Homo sapiens: one gene and its partners. The protein of the gene in region 3 purifies or fractionates together with the protein of the main gene of each other region. This does not show direct contact. Each region holds a gene or a part of one and is shown on either strand. Other genes may lie near its edges.

Evidence for each region.
Region 1: the proteins of ALX3 (region 3) and P3H1 purify together in Homo sapiens (affinity purification with mass spectrometry; 2 studies listed by BioGRID and IntAct, with this or other methods). This does not show direct contact.
Region 2: the proteins of ALX3 (region 3) and CRTAP purify together in Homo sapiens (affinity purification with mass spectrometry; 2 studies listed by BioGRID and IntAct, with this or other methods). This does not show direct contact.
Region 4: the proteins of ALX3 (region 3) and NDUFAF7 purify together in Homo sapiens (affinity purification with mass spectrometry; 2 studies listed by BioGRID and IntAct, with this or other methods). This does not show direct contact.

The regions. Positions count from the first base shown.
Region 1 is NC_000001.11:42,745,858-42,750,045, reverse strand, and holds the end of P3H1 (prolyl 3-hydroxylase 1 isoform 1 precursor), read left to right. Parts: intron 1-1,728; coding exon 1,729-1,846; intron 1,847-2,247; coding exon 2,248-2,323; intron 2,324-2,633; coding exon 2,634-2,774; coding exon of another isoform or gene 2,775-3,134; exon of another isoform or gene 3,135-3,193; coding exon 3,194-3,349; 3' UTR 3,350-3,672; downstream 3,673-4,188. UniProt on the Homo sapiens protein: Basement membrane-associated chondroitin sulfate proteoglycan (CSPG). Has prolyl 3-hydroxylase activity catalyzing the post-translational formation of 3-hydroxyproline in -Xaa-Pro-Gly- sequences in collagens, especially types IV and V.
Region 2 is NC_000003.12:33,109,793-33,117,044, reverse strand, and holds the start of CRTAP (cartilage-associated protein isoform 1 precursor), read right to left. Parts: upstream 3,032-7,252; 5' UTR 2,968-3,031; coding exon 2,497-2,967; intron 1-2,496. UniProt on the Homo sapiens protein: Necessary for efficient 3-hydroxylation of fibrillar collagen prolyl residues.
Region 3 is NC_000001.11:110,060,642-110,067,674, forward strand, and holds part of ALX3 (homeobox protein aristaless-like 3), read right to left. Parts: intron 4,263-7,033; coding exon 3,946-4,262; intron 923-3,945; coding exon 794-922; intron 401-793; coding exon 92-400; 3' UTR 1-91. UniProt on the Homo sapiens protein: Transcriptional regulator with a possible role in patterning of mesoderm during development.
Region 4 is NC_000002.12:37,234,626-37,241,658, forward strand, and holds part of NDUFAF7 (protein arginine methyltransferase NDUFAF7, mitochondrial), read left to right. Parts: intron 1-1,470; coding exon 1,471-1,551; intron 1,552-3,131; coding exon 3,132-3,242; intron 3,243-6,952; coding exon 6,953-7,033. UniProt on the Homo sapiens protein: Arginine methyltransferase involved in the assembly or stability of mitochondrial NADH:ubiquinone oxidoreductase complex (complex I).

The DNA of each region.
Region 1 (4,188 bases), about 67 Mb from region 3:
AGTGTGATGCATGCCACAGTAGCATGGAGGAAGTTATAGTCAACCTACCTGGGGATCAAGAAGGCTTCCCAGAGGGAAATGGGGTGCAGCCAGAAAGGGGGCCACCCGTCACTTGTCACACAACGCACTTTAATGGGGAAGCTGGTGCTAAACCATTCATAGAGGACCTGCCTCCGGGTTAGGGTTTCATACATAGCTGAGCAGCTCCCTCGCTGCCATCTGTTGAAAGACAGCCCTCAACAGAAGGGCTTGTTAAAAGCAAAAATAATAACAACAACAACAACAACAAAAAGAAGGCTTCCCAGAGGAAGCAATGGCAGTTTTGCAGGATGAATACGATTACGGAGTACTCCGGGTGGTGGGATGGTGTTTGCACAGGAGTGGAGGCATTGTGCAGCCTGGTAGTCAGGGGAACTAAGAAAGGTGCCAAATCCTGGAGAGCTACATTCAAGGGAATTTTTATCCTTTAGCTCAACCATAGCTATGTGGCAGATTCTCTTTTACTAATTGTTAAATACCAAATTTGTGAGAGAGCTTCGTGATTTACAAGTGAGAGTGGCCTGGAGGTTATTCCTCATTCCCTCGCCCACCCACATTCCCTTTTGCATGTCCAAGAAGGGGAGAGGTTCAGCTAGTGCTGCAAGGATCCTATGTGGCCCAGAGCCGGCTCTGTCATACTGGAGCCTCCAGCAGGCCCCTGGCAGTGATGGCCATTGGTACGTGGCACAGATCAGAGGGCTTTCCTCTACCTCAGAATGTTTGGAATTCTGTCACAATCTGGGCACACCCAAAGGGACCAGTCAGACACACAACTGGGTGTGTCACAAGCCCCCGGTGGGAGAGCACAAGCACAGGTGCCAGGAGGCCAGGGAGGCCTCATCAAGCAGTGAAGGACGTGGTGAGGCCTTGACTTTTAAAGGATTCATTTTGCTGCTGTGTGTGTGGAGAGATTTCAAACCAAAAAGGGAAGCTGGTCAGCAATGACCTCTGTGGACAAGGGCAAAGCCCTAAACTCAGGAAGTGGCAGTGGGAGGAGGGAGAAGTGAGGCCCCGGGAAGGTGCAGGAGGTGGATGGACAGGACCTGGTGACTGGCTGGACAAGTGGGAATGGAGAAGGAGGCACCCACCACGACGTGACGGTGCCTACATAGAGCATGCCAAAGGTTTGCGTTGGGGAAAGACGTGGTCTGCCTGGCATTTGACAGTGAGCCCGGTCTGTTCCCTTTCGTGACCTTCTCCCTGCATGGTTTCTCCACCCACCCCACCCCAGAGCCCCACTGAAGTTCATGCTTTCCCTTTGCTAGCCAGCTCTTCTCTGCCCCACTTCCTGCCACTCAGCCCCATCTCCTGCAGTCCTGATGGAGGACTGACCCACTCTGCCCTGCGTCCGTCCCACCTCCTGATCCCTCATTCTCACTTCCCTGGGCCTTTGTATTTTGTAAAGTCCAGCTACAAACCAGGGTTGTGCCATTCTGCCCAGGATCTGCCCTTGGTTGGAGCCCTTCATTCCTGCTTGCCACACCCTGCTCACTTCTGCCAAGAACTGTCCTAGGAAGCCTGCAGACTTGTCCTGACCCCTAGGCTTGTGGCTTAGCCAAAGACACCCCCCTAGTTCATTGGGCATTCCGTAGACTCAAACACATTTTGGGAAGCACCTCCCCTGCCAAGAAGAGAGCTATGCCGTCTCCCGAGGTGCTCCCTTGCTAACATGTGTGACATTGGCCCCAGAGGTCCAGGCAGAGAGGAAGGATGATAGTCATCCAGTCCACGTGGACAACTGCATCCTGAATGCCGAGACCCTCGTGTGTGTCAAAGAGCCCCCAGCCTACACCTTCCGCGACTACAGGTGAGTGCGGGGCAGGTGCAGGGTGAGGAGGTCTGTGCCCTCCTCAGAGGCCCCACAGTGCCCTGCACTCTACTACCCCACCCTAGCACACACACACTGGTTGGGGCTAGCTGTTCCCAGAGTCCAATCCTTTATCCCCAAACCCGCTGGATAAGAAGATAGGCAAAGAGGGAATCATATCGTGGTGTGACAAGAACGGTAGTGTGAGTGGGCACAGGGGACTCTAAGGCGAGGGTGGAGAGTGGAAAGGTGGAGTTTGTACGGCATCAGTATAGGTTCTTAAAGGTTTCCCTCCCACACAAAGCCACCCTCCTGCTGCTGGTTGAGAGCACCTGGAGGTGAAGGCTCAGGGGAAAGGGAGGCAGGGAAGGGCCATGATGAGATGTCTCTGCCTTTCCCAGCGCCATCCTTTACCTAAATGGGGACTTCGATGGCGGAAACTTTTATTTCACTGAACTGGATGCCAAGACCGTGACGGTGAGTGCTCCCTTGTCCTTGTCCCTGGGAGATAAAAAGTCTGTTTTCTACAGCTGATGTTCCCAAAGTGCAGTGGACAAAAATAACCAACTGGGCTTCCCAGTGGGCGGTACCCTTCCCCCATCCAGAGGGGCTTTGAGACGTGTCCATCACTCCTCTAACCAGTCACCCTTTCTCTTTAGTTCTGGTCTTAGGGAAGCCATACTGAAGAGCTGCCCTCGGTCGTGAGCCCTAATGAGCCCATGTCTCTTCTGAGAGTGGATTACAGTCTTTGTCCTGTGCAACCCCCCTCCCTTTCTGTCCCCCTTAGGCAGAGGTGCAGCCTCAGTGTGGAAGAGCCGTGGGATTCTCTTCAGGCACTGAAAACCCACATGGAGTGAAGGCTGTCACCAGGGGGCAGCGCTGTGCCATCGCCCTGTGGTTCACCCTGGACCCTCGACACAGCGAGCGGGTGAGAGCAGCTCGAGCGGGTGAGAGCAGCTGGTGCTGTGGTGACCCGTTCCCAGAGCGCCCTTGGTTTGCCTTTCTCTTCCCCAAATCCCATTGCCAGTGGCTGAGACACGAAAGGAGCACTTGGGACACCAGCTCCAACGCCCTGTCATTATGGTCACATTGCCTTGTCCTCCCTGGGCCTGCTGTGAACGGGATCCAGGTGGGGAAAGAGGTCAAGACAGGGAGCGATGCTGAGTTCTTGGTTCCCTCCTTGGGCCCCACTTCAGCTGTCCTTTTCCAGAGAGTAGGACCTGCTGGGAAGGAGATGAGCCTGGGGCCATTAAGGAACCTTCCTTGTCCCCTGGGAAGTAGCAGCTGAGAGATAGCGAGTGTCTGGAGCGGAGGCCTCTCTGAATGGGCAGGGGTTTGTCCTTGCAGGACAGGGTGCAGGCAGATGACCTGGTGAAGATGCTCTTCAGCCCAGAAGAGATGGACCTCTCCCAGGAGCAGCCCCTGGATGCCCAGCAGGGCCCCCCCGAACCTGCACAAGAGTCTCTCTCAGGCAGTGAATCGAAGCCCAAGGATGAGCTATGACAGCGTCCAGGTCAGACGGATGGGTGACTAGACCCATGGAGAGGAACTCTTCTGCACTCTGAGCTGGCCAGCCCCTCGGGGCTGCAGAGCAGTGAGCCTACATCTGCCACTCAGCCGAGGGGACCCTGCTCACAGCCTTCTACATGGTGCTACTGCTCTTGGAGTGGACATGACCAGACACCGCACCCCCTGGATCTGGCTGAGGGCTCAGGACACAGGCCCAGCCACCCCCAGGGGCCTCCACAGGCCGCTGCATGACAGCGATACAGTACTTAAGTGTCTGTGTAGACAACCAAAGAATAAATGATTCATGGTTTTTTTTACTTGGTTTGTTCAGACAATGGAAATTTGCCCATTCTGTCCCAGAGGTCTCACTTGATAAAAATTGCTCTAGGCAGGACCCAGTGGCAGGTGTGGGACGAGAAGTCCTGGCTTGGCACCTGGCTCAACCACTTGCTGTGCAGCCACAGGCCAGACACTTAACCTTCAGCACCTCGGGGTTGTCATCTGTATAATGGGGATCATAGTCCTCCCTCTGCTCACCTTCTGGGGCAGCTGTATGGCCCAGATGCAATATCGGATGTGACAACACTTTTGTAAACGGTAAAGCTCTGGGTGAATGGTTGGGATTATTGTTAATCCTCTTCTGGCAGGGAGCGGCGGTCAGCAGTGCTCTGGCACGTCACCCCTATGTCAGCCACATGCTTCCTGCTCTGCCGTCTGGCCTCAGTGTCCTGTATCTCGGCCTCCCTGTGCAGGAAGACACACTCTAGGAAACACTGGAAATGGAGATTCAGCTCCTCTGGCTACATCCCTGGTACTAGGTCCAGAGCTTTTAC
Region 2 (7,252 bases), on a different chromosome or scaffold from region 3:
GCCTTGACTTTCTGGGCTCAAGTGATCCTCCAGCCTCAGCCTCCTGAGTAGCTGAAACTAGAAAGGCACGCCACCACACCCGGCTAATTTTTTAATGTTTTTGTACAGATGAGATCTCATTATATTGCCCAGGCTGGTCTTGAACTCTTGGACTCAAGAGATCCTCCCACCTTGGCATCCCAAAGTGCTGGGATTATAGGCATGAGCCATCATGCCAAGCCATAAACATCATTGAGAAAAAATACACCATACAATATCTCCACCAAAAATTACTTTTTCAGTTATATCTTCCATTGAAACAATTAAGTAACATTCACGTTTATTAATAAAATTCTTAGCTTTTTCCTGCCCTATATGAGATCTCAAAATGTTAAGATGGTGGCCGGGCATGGTGGTTCAAATCCCAGACTGTAATCTCAGCATTTTGGGAGGCCAAGGTAGGTGGATCACTTGAGGTTAGAAGTTCGAGACCAGCCTGGCCAACATGGTGAAACCCCATCTCTACTAAAAATACAAAAATTAGCTGGGTGTGGTGGCACATGCCCGTAATCCCAGCTACTCAGGAGGCTGAGATACAAGAATTGCTTGCACCCTGGAGGCAGAGGTTGCAGCGAGCTGAGATCGTGCCACTGCATTCCAGTCTGGGTGACAAAGTGAAACTGTGTCTCAAAAAAAACAGATAGATAGACAGATAGATAGATAGTATTTTACTGACTTTCAACTAAGTGATTGTTACAAGACCTGTAAAGGGTTTTGAAGAGAAGCTATGACCATCCTAACCTTTTGGGGCCACCATGATGAAAGAGAAAACCCATGCCTTTTGGTCACATTGAGTAAAATGTTCTTCCCCTCTTCCCTGTAACACTTGTTCAAATTCATCTGTATATTAAAGAAATCAGAGGTTCTAGTATTCTCTAGGTTTAAAAATAAAATGATTTCCTCTTGATTATGTGACCTAAATTTGGTTCAGAACATATTTGCCAAAAGCTATACAAAAAAAGAATTAGATAAGTCATTTTTAGCTTAAAAAATGATGCTTTGTATGAACCAGCCCTCATTTTCAACATTCTGGAATTTTATTAATCTCATTCCCTGCTTCTGTTTTAAAACTGTTTTTTTTTAATTGCCAGAACAAACATTCACAAAACTGATACTTTAAATAAAACTGTAACTAAGCATAGAAGTATAGAAGTAACCCAGCTTTTCCCCTCTTTGGGGTTTTGTGTTATTTTATTGCTCATATAAATACAATATACACGTGGCTCTGTCTCGGTGGAAATCTGAAAAAACAGATCTTGCAGTCCAGAAACTGAAAACAAAGTTTAAAAACAAAAACCTTCTACCTCAAGAGTCTAGGATATGCCATGAATCTATTTTTGTAGTAATTTTAAAAAACACAATATATTCCTTTTAAAATCTTTCTCAGAGAAAGTAGAAACTGGGCTTTGAGAGGGCTCTTTTAGCCAAACCCTGTGAGGACCCACCAAGCTAGAGCCTCTTTATCTAGTGACAGGGAATCTAACCATTCTTAAAACTTGTGGGTCCTCGGAGTGAGAACCCATAGGATAGAGAACTGCAATTTGTGGCTATTTTTAGCCAGCAATCACAGAGAGAACTTAAGCAGCCATTAAAAGGAGGCAGTGAACTGTGTTAAATTCTAGATGAAAGAGAGAAACAGCGGAGAGGGCCAATCCTGATGACTCACGGTGCACGAGTTCCCCTTTAAGCAGGGATGTGTCCTTGCAAGGAGTCCCTGCCCTTCCCTGGCCTCAATTTCATCCTCTTTAAAAGGAACTAGTCAGCTGGGTGCAATGGCTCACGACTGTAATCCCAGAACTCTGGGAGGCGAGGTGGGAGGATCACTTGAGTCCGGGAGTTCGAGATCAGCCTGGGCAACGTGGCGAAACTCTGTCTCTACAGAAAATACCAAAAAATTAGCTAGGTGTGGTGGCGCGCGCCTATAATCCCAGCTACTCAGGAGGCTGAGGTGGAGGATCACCTGAGCCTGAGGAGGTCAAGGCTGCAGTGAGCCATGATAGCGCCTCTGCACTCCAGCCTGGGCGACTGTGAGACCCTGTCTCAACAAAAAATAAAAATAAAAGGTACTTGTCGGCTCCTCAGGTCTTCTGCTTTATTATCGCAAGTCACCGCTCACTTGAGAAAAAAGGCGACTTTAATGGTATATACAGAAAAGAGGCGTCTGCCCTCAAATAACAGAGAACATTTATCAGGCACTTTGTTGGGTGCCTGGCGCTGTACTGCGTTCTGTGTACGTATTCTCTACCTTAGAGTTACCCTTCAAGAAAGGCATTTTCATCTCTAGTTGAGATGAAGAAGGAGACAGGACTTGGAGGAGACCTTTGGCAGGGCTGGATGGGAGGGAGCCAGGTCTAGAACTGGAGGGGCAACGCGGCCCCGGGCGCAGGGGCGGGGCTAGGGCCTGGAGGCTGGGTCAGGGGCGGGGCCGGGGCCTGGGACGGGGCGAGGCGGACTTGCCTTGAAGTAAGCGAACTGCAGGAACTTGTAGGGCTCGCGGCGCTGGAAGTCCGCCAGCACCTCGCGGCTGGGCTGGGACTGGCGGAAGGCTGGCAGGCCCTGCTTGCAGCGCTTGAGGCAGTGCGCGCGGCGCAGCAGGCCCCCGAAGAGGCGCAGCTCGGGATAGCTGGCGAGGCCGGCGGCGGGCTCGGGCTGCGGCGCGGCGCTGCAGTTGCGGTGGCAGAAGGCCTCGCTGTCGCGCAGCAAGCGGTGCAGCCGCAGGCTGATCTCCAGGTAGCCCACGCTCTCGGCCCAGTGCTCGCCGCTGTACTTGTCCAGCGCGTGCCGGTAGGCCGACTCGAGCGGCATCAGCTCGTCCCGTGGGAAGCTGCGGAAGCTGTAGCGTTCGTATTGGGCGCGCCCGGCGCGCAGCGCGCAGGCCACGCACAGCAGCGCTAGCAGCGCCGCGGCCCCCCGGCGCCCCGGCTCCATCGCGCCCGGCGAAAGGAAGGAAGGAAGGGACGAAGGAAGGGAAAAGGGGAGGGAGAAGGAAAGGAAAGAGGACGGTGCGACGCGGCGGGCCCAGTGCTTTCGGGGCGGGGACGCCAGCCTCCGGCCCGCCCCGTCCGGCCGCCCCTCCCCACCCAGCCGGGGGATCTGGGCGCCAGCTGCCAGCACCTAGAGGGTGCCCGGGAAAGGCGCGCTGCGCACTGGTTCACGCAGGCTGATGCGCATGATGGGACTCTGCCGCTCATTCACTTGGAGACCCGCCTGCAAGGCCGACGCGGCCCTAATAGATTATATACATCGGCCCTACGGTCTATATAATCTACGATCTTTATATTCGTTTGGAGGTTTGTGAAAACGAAGATTCCTGGGCTGTGCCCCCAGAGTTTCTGATTCAGAAAGTCTGGGGTGGAGGTCTGACGATTTGTGTGTTTAACCAGCACCCTGATGAGGCTAATGCTGCGGGCCCAAGGGCCGCACTTTTAATAGCACTGCCCAACCTTAAATTTTAGTGAGAGAAAAAGACAGTGCAAAAATAAAATTAATAAGGATGTCAGCACTTTGTAAACTGTATAGCTAGTCAGGTTGAAGATGTGCACACCTTATGAATCTGCAACACCATTCGGTGGAATATGCTGGAGAAGCTTGCGCGTGTGCATCAAAAAATATGGATGGAATGTTAATGGCAGCACTTTTAAAAAATCTTTAAACTTTTAAATCTTGAAATAATTTACAAGAAAGCTGCAAAAACAGTACAAAAAGTTCCTATATACCCTTCATCAAGATTCACAAGTTGCTAACGTTATACCACATTTCTATCTTTACATTTTTTTCTGACTCATTTGAGATAGGTTGCATGTATCAGGCCCACTGTCCGTTAGTCTTTTTTTTTTCTTTTTTTTTTTCCTTTTTTTTTTTTTGAGACGGAGTCTCGCCCTGTCACCCAGGCTGGAGTGCAGTGGCGCGATCTCGGCTCACTGCAACCTCCGCCTCCCGGGTTCAAGCAATTCTCCCTGCCTTAGCCTCCCGAGTAGCTGGGATCATAGGCACACACCACCATACCTGGCTAATTTTTCTATTTTTTACTAGAGATGAGGTTTTGCCATGTTGGCCAGGCTGTTCTTGAACTCCTGACCTTAGGTGATCTACCTGCCTCTGCCTCCCAAAGTGCTGGGATTACAGGCGTGAGCCACCGTGCCCAACCCCTTAGTCTTTCAGTATGTATGTCCTAAGAATGAAACTACCAGACAATCAAATTTAGGAAATTTAATACTGATAGAAGACTTTAATCATGTTCCATTTCCGGTTATGTCAGCTGTTCCAATTATGTCTTTCATGGCACTTTTTTCTCTTAGGATGCAGTCCATCCGTGATCACTGTTACATCTAGTCTATTTCATATCCTTTAAACTGGTTCCTCGGCTTTTCTTGTCATGCCGTTGTCATTTTTGAAAAATATAGGCCAAAACAGCAATGAGATACCACTACAAAATCCAAAACACTGACAACGTCACATGCTGACAAGGATGTGGAGCAACAGGAACTCTCATTCATTGATAGTGGCAATGCAAAATGGTACATACAGTTTAGAAGACAGTTGGGCCGTTTCTTACAAAACTAGGCATACTCTACTCATACAATCCAGAAATTGCACTTCTTGGTATTTACCCAAATGGGTTAAAACTTATGCACACACCTGCGAATGGATGTTTGTAGCAACTTTATTCACAATTACCATAACTTGGAATCAACCAAGATGTCCTTCAGTGGGTAAGTGGATACATAAACTGTGGTATATACACACAATGGAATTTTATTCCAAGCCAAAAAGAAATGAGCTATCAAGCCATGAAAAGACATGGAGAAGTCTTAAATGCATATTACTGGTTGAAAGAAGCCAAACTGAAAAGGCTACATACTGTGTGATTCCAGCCAAATGACATTCTGGAAAAGGCAAAACTATGGAGACAGTAAAAGGATCAGTGGTTGCTGAGAATTATGGAAAGGGAGGAATGAATGGGTAGAGGACAGGATTATTGGAGCAGTGAAACTATTCTATATGATAGTATAATGGTGGATATATGCTATACATTTGTTAAAATCCATAATATGTACAACACTAAGAGTGAGCCCTAATGTAAACCGGACTTTGGGTGATAACGATGTGTTGATGTAGGTTCATTGATTGTAACAAATGTACCATTCTAGTGCAAGACATTGACAGTGGGGGAGCTTGCGCATGTTGTAGGGTCATGGAGTATATTTGAACTCTGTAGTTTCCGCTCAGTTTCGCTATGAATCTAAAACCACTCTAAAAAATAAAGTCTTTTTTTTGTTTTTTGTTTTGTTTTGAGATGGAGTCTCGCTCTGCTGCAGAGGCTGGAGTGCAATGGCATGATCTCAGCTCACTGCAATCTCCACCTCCAGGGTTCAAGCGATTCTCCTGCCTCAGCCTCCTGAGTAGCTAAGATTACAGGCCCGTGCCACCATGCCAGGCTAATGTTTGTATTTTTAGTAGAGACTGGTTTCACCGTATTGGTCAGTCTGGTCTCAAACTCCTGACCTCATGATCCACCTGCCTCGGCCTCCTAAAGTGCTGGGATTACAGGCATGAGCCACCGCGCCTGGCCTTTTTTTTTTTTTTTTTTTAAAGAACACAGGCCAGTTAACTTTATAAAAAGTTCCTCATTTGAGGTTTTCCTGATGTTTCCTCATGACTAAATTCAGATTAAGCTCATGACTAAATTCAGATTAAGCTCATGACTAAATTCAGATTAAGCTCTTTGGCTAGAATGCCACAGAAGCAATGTGCCATCCGTCTCAGGTGTAAAATCTAAATAACACAATGCCCACCCCTTGTCTGTGTTAATTTTGATCACTTTATTAAGGTGATGTCTGTTTTCCCTACTTCATTTGTTTTCTTTTGTAATTAACAAGTGTCTACAGTAAGGTAACGCAACATTGTTCTTAATGGCAGAAAGCAGGAATAACCTGTCCATAAACAGAAGAGTAGATTTAAAAAAAAATGAGAGTAAATGCATATAGAAGAATATATTATAGCAGGGAAAATGAAAGAATTAGAGCTACAAATAACAGTTCAATCTGGGGGCGGGGGGGAACCATTGAGAATGATTCCATTTGCCTAAAGTTTTTTTGTTTGTTTGTTTTTTGTTTTTTGTTTTTTTTTTTTTGAGACAGAGTCTCGCTCTGTCGCCCAGGCTGGAGTGCAGTGGCGCCATCTTGGCTCACTGCAACCTCTACCGCCCGGGTTCAAGCGATTCTCCTGCCTCAGCTTCCCGAGTAGCTGGGATTACAGGCACCTGCCACCACACCCAGCTAATTTTTTTTTTTTTTTTTTTAAGACTGAGTCTCACTCTGTCGCCCAGGCTGGAGTACAGTGGTGCGATCTCGGCTCACTGCAACCTCTGCCTCCCAGTTTCAAGCAATTCTCCTGCCTCAGCCTCCTGAGTAGCTGGGATTACGGGCGCCCGCCACCACAGCTGGCTAATATTTTGTATTTTTAGTAGAGATGGGGTTTTACCATGTTGGTCAGGCTGGTCTCAAACTCCTGACCTCAAGTGATCCACCCATCTCGGCCTCCCAAAGTGCTGGGATTACATGCGTGAGCCACTGCACCCGGCCTGCACCTGGCTAATTTTTGTAGTTTTTAGTATAGACAGGGTTTCACCATCTTGGCTAGGCTGGTCTTGAACTCCTGACCTTGTGATCCATCCACCTCGGCCTCCCAAAGTGCTGGGATTACAGGTGTGAGCCACCACGCCCGACCCTAAAGTTTTAAAATATGGAAAAACACACAATGTATTATTTAGGAGTAAAAATAATATAGTCCTACCTTATACAGGGTAAAACTATATTGAAAAGAGAATGATAGGCTGGGCGCGGTGGCTCACACCTGTAATCCCAGCACTTTGGGAGGCCAAGATGGGTGGATCACTTGAGGTCAGGAGTTGGAGACCAGCCTAGCCAACATGGTGAAACCCTGTCTCTACTAAAAATACAAAAAATTAGCTGGGTGTGGTGGCACATGCCTGTAATCCCAGCTACTGGGAAGGCTGAGGTGGGAGAACAGCTTGAACCCAGAAGACAGAGGTTGCAGTGGGGCGAGATTGTGCCACTGCACTCCAGCCTGGGCGACACAGCAAGACTCTCTCAAAAAAAAGAAAAAAGAAAGAAGGAAGGAAAGAAAGAGAGAAAGAGGGAAGGGGAGGGGAGGGCAGGGGAGGGAAATGATAAACAGAAACTTAGGATAG
Region 3 (7,033 bases):
ACCATCTGGGGCTTGGAGGCAGAGGTGGGCTGGGAGCGACTGGGAATGGAAAAAGAGGTGGGCAGCTCATTCTGCAGGTCCATGCAACCGATCACGTGGTCCAGTTCAGAAGGCCGGGTGGCTCCTTGGGCTTTACCCTGAGCGAGACGAGGCTTGGAGACTTATAGTCACCATCTGAGGAAGGCTCAAAGCTGTGGCCCCCCAGGGTGGGGGGAAAGCCATGGATGGAGTAGATGCCAGGGTGAGCCGCAGAAGGGGCTGGCACCCCCATGAAGCCAGCCACACTCCCATGGGGGTGGGAATATGGAGACATGCATGGGGAGGGGATGCCCTCTGGAGACACAAGGCAGGGGCCTCCAGGGCTCCCAGATCCTGGACTGGCCCACAGGGAGTTCTGCAGCTGAAAAGAGAGGGAAAGAAGGCCCATGAGCCTGTAGCCTCAGGAGCTGACTTCCCTACCCAGGGGCTTTCTCTTTGTCCTTGGGGCCCCAGAAACTTTCCAGGAAACCTCCACTTGGCTCAGATCTACCCCCTCTCACCCCCAACACTGGCAGTGGCATCTCAGGAGGCCCCTGCCACTGTTCTCAAAACGAAATTTTCTTCTGTGATTCCTTTGTGTTCCGCATGCGTCATTCATGAGACAGGCAAGAGCCCCGGTTTGCAGAGAAAGAAGTGAAGTGGTGTACCCACTGTCATACAGAACGCTGACGCTCTCCAGGTTTCTTCAGGCCAGACCTCATATTCTTTTTGGTGACCCTGCCAGGTCCTGGTTCAGGTAGGGCTGGGGTCTTACCTGAGGGTGGCTGTCAGTACGGGGCAGCACAGAGATGTCATAGGCAGCCGTGAAGGGGTTCCGCCCCTCCTGGATCTTCCCATAACGCTCGCGCTTCCGCCACTTGGCTCTGCGGTTCTGGAACCAGACCTGGGGGCAGGTTGTGGGGGTTTGAGGGGGTGATAGGGCAGCCCTGAGGAAAGGAGCCTGCTAGGGAGAGCTGATGGTTGTGTCCTCTTGTGGGATGGGGAGCAGGCTCCAGGATGGAGGATCTCAACTGTTAATCCACACTGTTCTCCAGGCCAGGGAAGCCTGGGAGGAAGCCTGGGAGAGGCCCAAGCCCACAGTGGGTAATTGGCCCCATGGGCCTCCAGCTGTCACTCCCCAGGTTGAATCACTGTGGTCCTCCAGCCTGGCTGTGTCTAGTAAGGGTGTTGTGGGGGCATCTGTGGGCCTCAGGGGCCCTAGGTACTTCCTGGGTATACTGTGTACATGTGTTGGGTTTCTAGTCTCCCTGCCTCATCTCCTTTTCCAGGCTACCCACCTCATAGCATCCGAGGAATCTTAGACATTTCTGTTCAGGTCATGGTCCTGTTTAAACCCTCAGTGACTCCCTGGAGACCTTGGTCCAGAGCATAGCTTCTTAACAAGGCCCCTGCCTCTCTGCACAGCCTCATATCCTGCCAGGCAAACACATTTATTCTTCTGGTTGCCTCCCAAGCTCCCGCCCAGCTCTTCTGAAACACTGCTATCTTGCTCCTTCCATCTTTTGCTTAGGTTTTCTCTTCCTGGGCTACTCATCCCCTCAACACATACATCCACACTGGGCATCCTCCACAGGACTTCCAAAATACCCTGGACCTCTCTTTGTACTCACCCCATTCCATTACCATGATCTGTTTTGGAATCTGTTTCTCCCATTTATTTGTGAGCCCTTGGCAGATAGGGGTGGCACATCTGTGTGTTGTGCACATCTGTGTACATATCTGTGATGAATTCGTTGTTTGGTATATGTGCTGTGACTGTTACATTTAACTGTATTGGTATATATGTTTTGTATTTCTATCATTTAATCAACATTTATGTGTCAGCCTCTAAGCTAAATTTAACAATGTCAAAATAAAACCAACCAAACAAAACAACCCCTGCTTTCCAGGGATATCTAGCTGGGAGTCACAACAGAAGAAAGCTGTGTGTGTGTGTGTGTGTGTGTGTGTGTGTGTGTGTGTGTGGAGTAATCCGTCTACCCCAGCTGGGATCAGGCTTCCTGCCCCCATGGTCATTCCTACACATGCAGGCAGGTAAGGCACCAACAGTGAAGGGGCTGTGCATACCCCATCCCCCTAGCTCCCAGATTGCCAAGATAAGAAAGCAGGCCTGCAGCAAGGTCAGCAAAAGGCCACCCCCACCTGCCCAGCTGCCTGGATTTCCTTTCTCTGCTCTCCCTCCCCTGACAGAGGATGAGGGAGCTTACAGCCAGTGAATCTGGCTATTGGAACTCACTTTTCTGTCACCACCCATTCTCCCTTGGGGATCCCGCTGTAGGCCTCCCCTGGGCTCTGGACCTGCCCTCTGCATTATCTGGTGTGTAGTCTCATTCTTCCTCTCCATAGGGCAGGGTGTATGGGTGGGTTTCACACCCCTGCCAGAGAAAACATTCCTACTCCAGGGTCTCCATCCTTCAGGAAGCTTCTAGACTAGGGGTGAGGGCCTCATGGCTACTCCTGCACCCTCTCAGGTTGAAAAGGCCTAGGAGAGGAGCAGAGGAAGTGCTCTCCACCTCCCACAAACACTTGCTTTGGGAAGAGCTGGTTAGACCACACCCCGGAGGCCTGCTGAGGTGACTCCATGGTCCTGATTCCCATGGCTTATATCATCTGGGGTTGCCTTGAATGCCGGGCCTCTTGCCCTGATGACCTCAGCCCCTGGAGGCCTTGGGGGACAGTCTTGGAAGTCTGTTTTGGCTCCTCGGAGGAGCAGGGAGGCAGGAGAACGCAGCAGAGAAGGGGAAACAGCCCAAGCCTCTCTCATCCTGTTGGATGCAGCCGTAGGGCCTTCTCTGTTAGATGACAGCTGGCCTCTTTATAGACTGGCCTGTCAGTCCCCATATCCTGCCAGGACTATCTCCTGCCCTAGTGCCTTCACAAAGGGTCTCTGGAAGGGCCCCATGCAGGGTGGGATAGCATGAGCTTTGTTCCTGCTAAGTCTCCTCCATGGTGGGAGAGAGACTCCTCTGCCTAAGAGGTCACCTCCTCACCTTTCCCCAGAACTCCAACCCACCCCTCCCAGTGTCTCCTGCTTGGTATCGGGAAGCCTGCTTTGATCGAGCCGGTTCAGTGCAAGCCAGTGAATGGCCATCTTCCTCTTGGGCCAGACTCTTACTGAAACTCCTTCCCCATCCCCAGCCTGCTTGCCACCTTCATGTGCTTGACACTTCCAGCATGCTTGGACGTGGGCTTCCCTTGCCTTCCTCCCTTCTCAGCATTTACCTACCCACAGGCTGGGCTCCCCCCATGTAAAACTGGCCACGGCCCCTCTGGGAAGCCCTGGCACCTGATCTCCATGGGGGATTTTGTTAGGATGGGGAAGGGCTCCCAGCCAGCCTTTCCCAGCCAGCCTTTCCCAGCCAGGGTCTGAGCGCTGGCAGGGACCCAAGGTCGGTGGCTCCTGATGACTTTGAGAATCACTAACCCTGAGACCTCCTGACAGGGACCCTCCCATTCTAGGCAGCCACCTCAGGAGCAGCCCTGATGTGTGTTCAGCACTTCACCGCTTCCAAAATGCGGCCATCCCTGTGATCCTCAGGATAGTCCCTACGCAGCCAGTCCCATCATTCCCTTTTCCTGAACTGGGAAACTGAGACTGAGAGATCTATTAACATACCCCAAATCACCTCCAGTAAGTGGTAGACTTTAGGACTCCCACACAGGTGATGGCTTCCAGAGGCCATCGCCCTTATACCCAGGCATAAGCTTCAATTTGGACCAGAAGAGCCTGTGGCTGCAGCAGAGCTGGGCATGAGGGTGAGCCCAGGAGGGGAAGGCTGGTGCAGGCCCCTGGGAAAGGTAGCTCTGGGAGGCACCAGTGCCCACCTCTCCCAGCCCTTCCAGATCACTTTCTGGTCACTGTGTGATAGGGGCAGCCAGAGAGCCCCATCCTTGCAGTGCCCTCACCTGTACCCGGGCCTCAGTCAGGTCTGTGCGCAGGGCCAGCTGCTCCCGGGCATACACATCAGGATAGTGGGTTTTCTGGAAGACCTTCTCCAGCTCCTCCAGCTGGAATGTGCTGAAGGTCGTGCGGTTACGACGCTTCTTGCTCTTGTTCTTGGCCAACTCCATGGAGTCAGGGAGTCCCGGGGAAAGAGGAAGATGCAGGCTGGCCAGGCAGGGGCCTGGGGAGCCTTGCAAGTTAGAGGGCCCGTCTCTGGGGCCCCCTCGGCAGTCCAAGGGCAGCTGGGGGAAGCTGGCAGCTTTGGAGGTCTTCTCCTCAGCTGCAATGGAGAACACAAAAGGGAGGATGGCAACTGAACCAGGGGCTTTTGTGGGTTGGAATGGAGGGAGGGGGAAGAACATTGACGCCTCAGTCTCCGCCTCCCCCTTCCTTTCCCTTCCCTTCCTCCTGGCAGCCACCCTCCATGGGAGCCTGGCATTTAGAGGCCTGCCTGCTGAGCCTCCAGCTGGGGAGGGGGCCCTGGGGAACTATGTGCTCTGTGGTCTGGGCGGATCTGCTGGGGCCAGAGTGGGGTTCATTTCGGGGAAGTGCTCTGTGGTGGTGCGTTCCACAGGGACGTGAGAGGACTGGCGCCACAGCAGGACCACCACCCTGGCAAGGCCAAGAATGGGGGCAGAGGGCGGGGTGAGGATGGGGTGGTTGACATCTCCTGCTCCTGCCAGAAAGTGCTTCCTTGTTCCTAACTCTGCAGGCCTTGGTTCCCAGGCCCTTATGCCCACGCCTCTGTTCCCAGGGCCAGGCAGGCTGTGGACGTGGGTGCTCAGACCACCTTTGGCTGGTCTGGCTGAGCTTTATTCTCTGAACCCCAGGTCTCAGGTCAATATCAAATTCCCCAGCTCTGGTGTAAGAAGGGCAAGATGGGACAAAGAAGCTTCCAGAGGGATTGCTTCTCTCCATTCCTCCTAAAATTGTGGTATCTGGGCAAGGACTTAAGCTCCAGCAATAGAGAAGCAGAGCTGAGATAGGCTGTGCTCAAAGAAGGAGAGTTGGGGACCAGTGTCACAACAGGGCACAGCCCCTGTCCCCATCATTCCCATCATTGACCACCCCCTCCTTCCTCAGGAGTTTCTAACTGCTCCCCCATTGCCTGTGTTTAACAGGCAGGGAAGGACTTGATTACAGACTGGAACAGTTTCCAGCAGCCCCACTCTGACATGCTAACCCCTACTCCAGAAGCTTGGCGGAGCCTCACCATGGTGGATCGACCGACAGAGCATGGTGAAAAATAGGTCACTCTGATTGCCCACACCCTCTCCCTCTGGCAAGGACCCCCAGCGGTGTCCCCATGAAATCCCTCCTCAACAGTCCACTGGGATGGCAGCTGAGACGCCACAAAGACGCCCCACTGACTCACACAGCCTCTTGCCTGGCTCTGGGCCCATCTCCAGTGGAGGCCTGGCCCTGAGGAGGCCCAGCTAGCTGGCACAAGAGGCAGTGTCTTCCCAGGACTTGGTGTCAGGATCACAGCTGTGGTTGGGGGAGGATGGGACTGGACAAATGGGCCTCTCAGGATCTGGGTCTGGTGAGTCCCTGTCTGCACTGTGAAGGACAAATGGGGCAGGGTCCTCCTCAGCTGGAAGGTGGTCAGTTACTTTCCAGGACTACCCAGGCCATGAGATAAGCTCCTGGTGTGTGTCCTGGAGGACTGGGAGAGTCGAGCAGGGCTACCTAGCCTTGGACCATGCCCAGCCTGTACACAGGCCTGTACACAGGTAGCCCACAGCTACAGCCCAGGGACCAGGGCTCCTTCACAACTCAGGTGGAGCACAGGGGAGAAAGTGTTCCAGTCTCTGACTTCCATTCTTGGGCCAGCACATTTCAGGTTTAGAGGCAGTTCCATTTGATAGAAGCTTAGGAAGGAAGACTCACAGAAGTTGAACCAAATAATTGAAAATGATAGGAAGACTAGGGACACTGGAATGGGACATCCCCCCCCCCCGCCCCCGCCACCCCCACCACATGCATACACACAGCAGGCCATGGAAATGTTCAGCCTGAGAAGAAAGAGTCTTGGTGTCTTGTGTTTGTAGGGAGGCTGTGCTGGACTCCAGGCAGAAAAGGGGTGAGGGTAGCTCAGGGCTGAGGGTCAGGGCTGGGGTTCAAGAGTACTGACATCCTGGCAGAGGCCCTCCAAAGCCCTGGGGCTTGCTCATCTGCCTCTTGGGTCTCAATAGGACCTGCCCAGAAGAAGGGACCAGATCTGGGGCCCTGAGACTTGCGTTCCCGACCTTGAGCCACCAAGCTGCCAGGGACAAGGGATGAAAGTGCAGTAGGACTTCTCAGAGCAGCTTCCCCAAAGAAGAGGCTAAGCCTGCTGACCTATGCCCAACTCCCATGCCTGCCCAGTCTACAGCCCTCTCAAGGGACCACGGAACTGCTCTCCTCATTGTCATTGCCCTGAAACCTCCTTGATCTACCTGGAGAACACCAGAGGGAGGGTGGCATCCCTCCACTTTGGGAGAGGGGCACTCCTCAGAGAACACAGAGCAGCCTCCTGAGGAGCAAGGCCCAGAAGAGGAAAGGGATAGAACTGGGACAAATGGAAGGCAGAAGCCAGGAAAGACAGGCCAGGAATAGCAGCCAGCAGCTTGAACCTAAGCTTGTAAAGGAGTGAGGGCTGCTCTGCTGAGCACGGGGCACATCTGAGGTGTGTATGGATTGTGCAGAGGAGTCACTGCACCTGATCCGGACACTAGGTGGTTAAGGCGGGGTACTCATGTTGGAGACAGCCTGAGACAACGCTGGGGTGTCTTCTGCCTGCATAACCGCAGGGCCACAGCAGCAGCTGTTGGGCGTGAAAGCCAGGAGCCTTTTAACGTAGTAAAGGAGCTCTCTGTCCCTGACCCAGCTCTCAGGCCTGCCGTACCCTGAGCACCCCTCACCCGGAGGAGTGCCAGAGCCCCTACCAGCGGCTGCTTCTAAGCCACTGTGCAGCCAGGAAGCAGCGCCGCAGCAGGCCCGAGTGCTCCACTGTCCCCACAGAAGGCATCCATTGAGACCGCGGGACCAGCCTTGGCTTTCACATTTCGC
Region 4 (7,033 bases), on a different chromosome or scaffold from region 3:
GATTGAAAAAATGTTCTCAAAAATGGGAGTGACTTGATTTATTTTGAATGCTGAAGGGGGAAAGTTGAAGCTGGAAGAGAGAAGGGGACAGCTAAAAGGACTCAGGGGAGTTGTATGAGGAATGGTCCAGAGCACAGGCGGAGGGATTAGGTTTGGATGAGAGGAGAAGGGGAAGGCATTTCATTCTTGGAGTCCCCAGATTAGGTTAGAGGCCAGGTGGGGATGGGAAGCTGAGGAATTCGTATTTTATAACATTCTTTAATTCTGGAGTGAGACTGGGGCCCATGTCACCTGTAGTAAGGTGGTAGAATAGGAGCTTGAGAAGCATAAGAAATATTTAACTCAATTCTTGAGTGTTTCTTGAAGGTTAGGCATCGTGCTAAAACTTGGGATATGAAGATAAATAAGGCATGATCTTCTGCAAACAACTATACTTTGTGGTGAAGAACAGAGACAAATTAGCTCAGAAAAGGTGGCACTGGATTTGGCCTTAGGTTGGAGGGCTGGAGGAGGTCAGCTAGGTGGCATTTGAGCAGATTCGGAGGTTGAGTATAAGACTGCCAGGGAAAGTTGAAAAGGGAGAAGGGTGAGGATTTGCAGTGGCATGGATGTCTGGACAAGCAAGGCTAATAAGAAAAAAAAAAACAACCCTTTTTCTGGAGATATAATATTCATATAGAAAAGTTCATAAACCACAAGTTTACAGCTCAATGAATTTTCACAAAGCAAATGCTCCCATGTAACCAGCACCCAAATCAAGAAACAGAACATCACCAGCAGGCAGGGCCCATATGTGAGGCAGAAAGTGTTAGAATTTGGAGAGGAGGCTGGAGGAGTAGGCAGGGTCTTGCTGTGTTGGGTGTGGGAGCTGGGAGGGGAGGAAGGGTCTGGCGTGCAGAGATGGACGTTACATGACTTCTGCCTTTACGGTCAAGGTGTAATTGTTTTTCTACCGGTTTTGTAAAATGACTGTTACTTTGTAAAATTTGGGTAAAGACACCATATTTCCCTTGCTTATTTATTTATTTATTTATTTATTTATTTTTTGAGATGGAGTCTCACTTTGTCACCTAGGCTGGAGTGCAGTGGCGCGATCTCGGCTTACTGCAAGCTCTGCCTCCGAGGTTCACGCCATTTTCCTGCCTCAGCCTCCCAAATAGCTGGGACTACGGGCACCCTCCACCATGCCCGGCTAATTTTTTTGTATTGTTTTTAGTAGAGATGGGGTTTCACCATGTTAGGCAGGATGGTCTCAATCTCCTGACTTCGTGATCCACCCGTCTCGGCCTCCCAAAGTGCTGGGATTACAGGCATGAGCCACCACACCTGGCTCCCCTTGCTTATTTAGAGGAGAGAACTTTCTTACTAAATAATTATTTCACTTTTACATTATTTAAGATTTTGGAGGGGTATTTTTAAAAGGCTTATTTGAAAATTAATTTTGTTTCTCTATTTTCTCTTTTTACTCAGGGTTATTATGTGTACCGTGACATGCTAGGCGAAAAAGGAGATTTCATTACTTCACCTGAAATAAGTCAAATCTTTGGGGAGGTAATATACTATGTAAAGTATGAATGAAGCTAATATAAACATTTGAGAGCAGATCAAATTGTATTATTCTGTAGTAGTGTTCTACAGCTTTTTTTGTGATTCATCAAAAGTTTTAACTTTATAGTAGTTTATGTACTGAGGGAATAGAGAGGCAGTAGAGGGGAGTAAAATGGTAGAGAGAATATTTGAAAAGTTTATACTCCACTGTAGGAAGGGAAATGGAGAGATAAGAGGGACAAAGAGAAAGAGAAGGAAAGGAGGGGGTCATAAAGAGGACAGAAAAAGGAGAATCAGATGAAGGAAGAGAATGGAAGAAGGGGCCAGGCGTAGTGGCTCACACCTGTAATCCCAGCACTTTGGGAGGCCGAGGCAGGCGGATCACAAGGTCAGGAGATCAAGACCGTCCTGGCTAACACGGTGAAACGCAGTCTCTACTAAAAAAAAAATACAAAAAATTAGCCGAGCGTGGTGGCGGTCGCCTGTAGTCCCAGCTACTTGGGAGGCTGAGGCAGGAGAATGGCGTGAACCCGGGAGGCGGAGCTTGCAGTGAGCCAAGATGGCGCCACTGCACTCCAGCCTCGGCGACTGAGCAAAACTCCGTCTCAAAAAAAAAAAAAGAGAATGGAAGAAGGAAGAGAGACAAAAGGAAAGGCGAGGAAAGAGGTAGAGTGCCCAGGAGAGTGCCCGGGAAGGAAGAGAGAAAAGATAAAGAGCATTGAAGAATTAGTGGAATTAAGAGAAGCTCTAAAGCTCCCAGTCATGATTTTAGCCGTACTTACAGTAAAAGTCTTCTTTTATTTATCTATTTTTTGAGCCAGGGTTTTGCTCTTATTGCCCAGGCTGGAGTGTAGTGGCGCAATCTCGGCTCACTGTAACCTCTGCTTCCCGGGTTCAAGCGATTCTCCTGCCTCAGCCTCCCGAGTAGCTGGGATTACAGGCATGTGCCACCACTCCTGGCTAATTTTGTATTTTTAGTAGAGACAGAGTTTCTCCATGTTGGTCAGGCTGGTCTTGAACTCCCGACCTCAGGTGGTCCACCCGCCTCAGCCTCCCAAAGTGCTGGGATTATAGGCGTGAGCCACCACGCCCAGCCAAGTCTTCCTTTAATAAACAGAATTCTAATTCATTTCCACTAAGTACCTTCTATGAATTTAGAAATAGGAAATAGTGTATACGAGGAAGTAGAATGTGCGTATCGAAAAACATTAGTTATTATAAGAATCATGTAATTGTTTAAATCATATGAATATGAAGAAATGGCATAATCACATTTCATATGTTTATTTGCTTTCAAATACTAATACCTTTCTGCTAGTGATATCCTCTTATCTATGTCATGGGACCTTTTATAGCAGAGGCTGCCTTATTTTTTCCTATTAATCTTCCTAAATGGTGTATGTTATGATGTAGTCCCAGGAAGTTCCTATGTGAACATGTACGTATGTATTGAACAACATACATATGGCTGTACACATTTTGCTTTTTGGCATATAGTGCATATTTATGTGAAATTTTATATTGTGGTATACTTTTATACTTTATAATACTTTAATATGTGTTTTTTTTTTCCCTTTTCACAGCTACTAGGTATATGGTTCATTAGTGAATGGATGGCCACTGGAAAAAGCACAGCTTTCCAGCTGGTGGAACTGGGCCCAGGTAGGGGAACCCTCGTGGGAGATATTTTGAGGGTAGGTAATAAAAGAATGTCTTCTAGTCTCATATAAGTGAATTTTAGTACTTCTGAGTGTGCAAACCATGTTGATTTCATTGGTTTTCAGTTCCTTAATTTCATATTTCTCAGCTAAAATATAATGTCAGAATAATGTAATCAGTCATTACTTACTGTTGTCTGTAAACTTAAAAATTGGAGGGGAGGGGGAGAATATGAAAGCTAAAAATAGGAAACATTTAGAAGACATTATGGGAGAGTGTATTTGTTTCCTCAGGAAGGAAAGTTGTTAATTATATTAAAAGTTTAGGCCAGGCATGGTGGCTCAATCCTAGCACTTTGAGAGGCCAAGGTGGGCAGATCACAAGGTCAGGAGTTCGAGACCAGCCTGACCAACATAGTGAAACCCCGTCTCTAGTAAAAATACAAAAATTAGCTGGGCATGGTGGTGTGCATCTGTAATCCAGCTACTCAGGAGGCTGAGGCAGGGAATCGCTTGAACCCAGGAGGCAGAGGTTGCAGTGATTGCTGCAGTGATTGATTGCAGAGCTGAGATTGCGCCATTGCACTCCAGCCTGGTGACAGAGCGAGACTCCGTCTCAAAAAAAAAAAAAAGTTTAGGCTGGGCAAAGTGGCTCATGCCTGTAATCGTAGCACTTTGGGGGGCCAAGGTGGGAGGATTGCTTGAGGCCAAGAGTTCAAGACCAACCTGGCCAACAAAGCAAGACCTCGTCTCTTTTTATATTAAAAAAAAAAAAAGCAGAAGGCATAAAGCAAAAGATTAATATTTCATTTCTTACATTAAAATTAAAAACTTCTTGCTCTACAAATAAACTAGCAGCTTTTTGTTCTTCAGAGACCCCATTAAGAGAGTGATTAGACAAGCCACAGAGTGGGAGAAGTTATTTGTAACACGTAACCAACAGAGAACTAGTAGTTAGAATTATTTAAATAACTCCTTTAGGTCAGTAAGAAGACAGATAACTTGAGAAAAATCAGGCCAAAGATGTGAACAAGTCCATTCATAAAAGAGGAAAATACAAACGGCTAAAAAAGCAAAAAAAAAAAAAAAAAGATTAGTCACATTGGTAGTCAGGAAGATGAAAATTAAAATCACAATGAGATACTACTGTAACCCTTGCCAGATTAGAAAAAAAAGCTAAAAGTCTGTCAACACCAAGTATTGGTGAAGATGTGGATTTGTGGATCAATGGCAACTCTCATATACTGCTTGTAAAACTATAATTTAGTACATCCTTTTTTCTTTCTCTTTTTTTTTTTTTTTTTTGAGACACAGTCTCACTTTGTCACTCAGGCTGGAGTGCAGTGGTACGATCTTGGCTCACTGCAACCTCTGCCTCCCAGGTTCAGGCGATTCTTGTCCCTCAGCCTCTTGAGTAGCAGGGATAATAGGCGTGGATCACTACACCCGGCTAATTTTTTTATTTTTAGTAGAGAAGGGGTTTTACCATGCTGGCCAGGCTGATCTTGAACTCTTGGCTTGAAGTGGTCCGCCTGCCTCGGCCTCCCAGAGTGCTGGGATTACAGGCATGAGCCCCCGTACCCAGCCTTGTACAACCTTTTTGAAAAGCTATTGGCCATTATCTATTAACATCAAAGTTTCTTATATTGTATGACCCAGCAATTTTACTGCTAGTGATATACCCTAGAGAAACTAGTGTATATGTGTACCAGGAGACACATACAAGAAGATAGCAGCATTGTATAAAATAGCGGAAAATAACAGCACAAATGCCCATCGGGGGGTAAATGAATCAGTTAATTGTGGTATAGTCATACAGTGGAATACGAAGTACTGCAAGAATGCGTGAAATCACAGTGGAATATAACAGTGTTCAACATGAAACAAGATGTGTGAAAGTAGCAGTTTGCAAGAGTTCGTATCATATGATTGTATTTATATAAAATCCAAAAAATAGTCAACATTAAACAATATGTATTTGGTGATAAAAATATATTTAGTAACATTTATAAAGAAAAGTCAGGGTGTTATTAACTCAAGATTCAGAATGGTGGTGACTTCCAAGGGTAGAGGGAGTCCACAGGGGCTTTGGAGATAAGGTCATGTCCCATTTATGGTAGATATTCTCTCTTGTATCATTGTTTCTATCAGTCTACGTACTATTTTATGAAAACATTAAAAAGGAGGACAGTTGTTTATAGTACCTGATAAGTAATAGTATTTATTAAACTTTTGTAGTTTTTAGTATTTTGGAACTCATTAGTGTTTTTGAGTTTATTTTATATGTACTTGACAATTCAATGTAAAAAACAAACATGGCTGGGCGCAGTGGCCCATGCCTGTAATCGCAGCACTTTGGGAGTTCGAGGCTCCCAAAGTTCAAGATCAGCTTGGGCAATACGGTGAAACTCCATCTCTACAAAAAATACAAAAATTACCCAGTCGTGGTAGCATGCGTCTGTGGTCGAAGCTAGTTGAGGGGCTGAGATGGGAGGATTGCTTGAGCCCAGGAGGTTGAGGCTGCAGTGAGCTGTGATTATGCCTCTGAGTAACAAAGTGAGACCCTGTCTCAAAAAAAAAACCAAAAAACACCAACACATACTCAATATAAATTTAAATTTCTTGATGCTTTATGGTTTTTGCTTTAAATTAGAAATTAAAGGATTTAAAAAATATATAAAATATATAAACATATGACAAATAAGAATCTTGATTATTTGGGTGAAGAAAGAAAACAAAATCACGAATTTAAATTTCCAGGGCTCTATTTTATGTTTTTCAGCAAGGTCATTTGAATATAAAATATTTAATAAGGACCTCAAATCATATTCTCTTGTTCAAGTACTTTAAAAGTTGATTCCAGAGCCCTTAAAATGTATGAAGGATGCTTTTCCAGACTGAGTCATAAGAAGTCCTAAAAGCCAAAGAATTTAAAGGGTTGTAAAGCAAATAGCCAGAGAAGTGTCAGACCTGTTTTATTTTTGATGTTACCTTCTGAAGGAATTTCTCCTGGGAAGTTTTTCCATTTGTATTTCGATCTCAAAACTAAATTTGGAAAAATCATCTTGTTCATATTATCAGTCTGGATGTGCATATTCATATCTCAAAAGTATTAATTGGAGGCAGATCACCAGTAGAAATTAAATTCAAATGAAAAATAATGTTGATACACTTTATGCTTTTGCTATTGATTTTTTAGCCTTAAAAGATTGGTAAAATATTAGTATTTTCCTTTTTCCCTTGCATGTTTACAACAGTGAAAAAATGTGTAGCTAAATATAGATTGAAAATGTGGCAGACCCCCGAGTTAAGCAGTCAGGTTTTCAGTACCATTCAGATTTGGTTCTTTGAGGTTAGAGTTCTCATCATCTCAAAGATGAGATTACTTCCTAGACCTAGAGATGTTATCAAATCAAGGCTGTGTACATTTTATTTCCTTGGTCTTTTTTTAGACTCCATAATCTGAATCATTGTTTTTATCAGATGCCAAATCTTTTATTTTCATTTGTTAATCATAATTTATCATTAGGAAACCAAATTGTGCATTGTTCATTTCTTATTTAGATTATGCTTAATAACTAGTAGGTTAGGATTCTTATAGACTGCTGGAGAGTGGCTTGGGTAAGGAACACATCTCTCTGAAATATTACCTCTATTGTGACATGACTAAATCATTGATGTAAATGATTAGGAAACTTAAAACCTACTTAACACATTGTATTTTTTTTTCTTCTTTTGGTATTTAGGTGTTCACTCAACTTGGATCTGTGCTGAAAAATTGTGACATTTCAGTACATCTGGTAGAGGTAAGCCAAAAATTAAGTGAG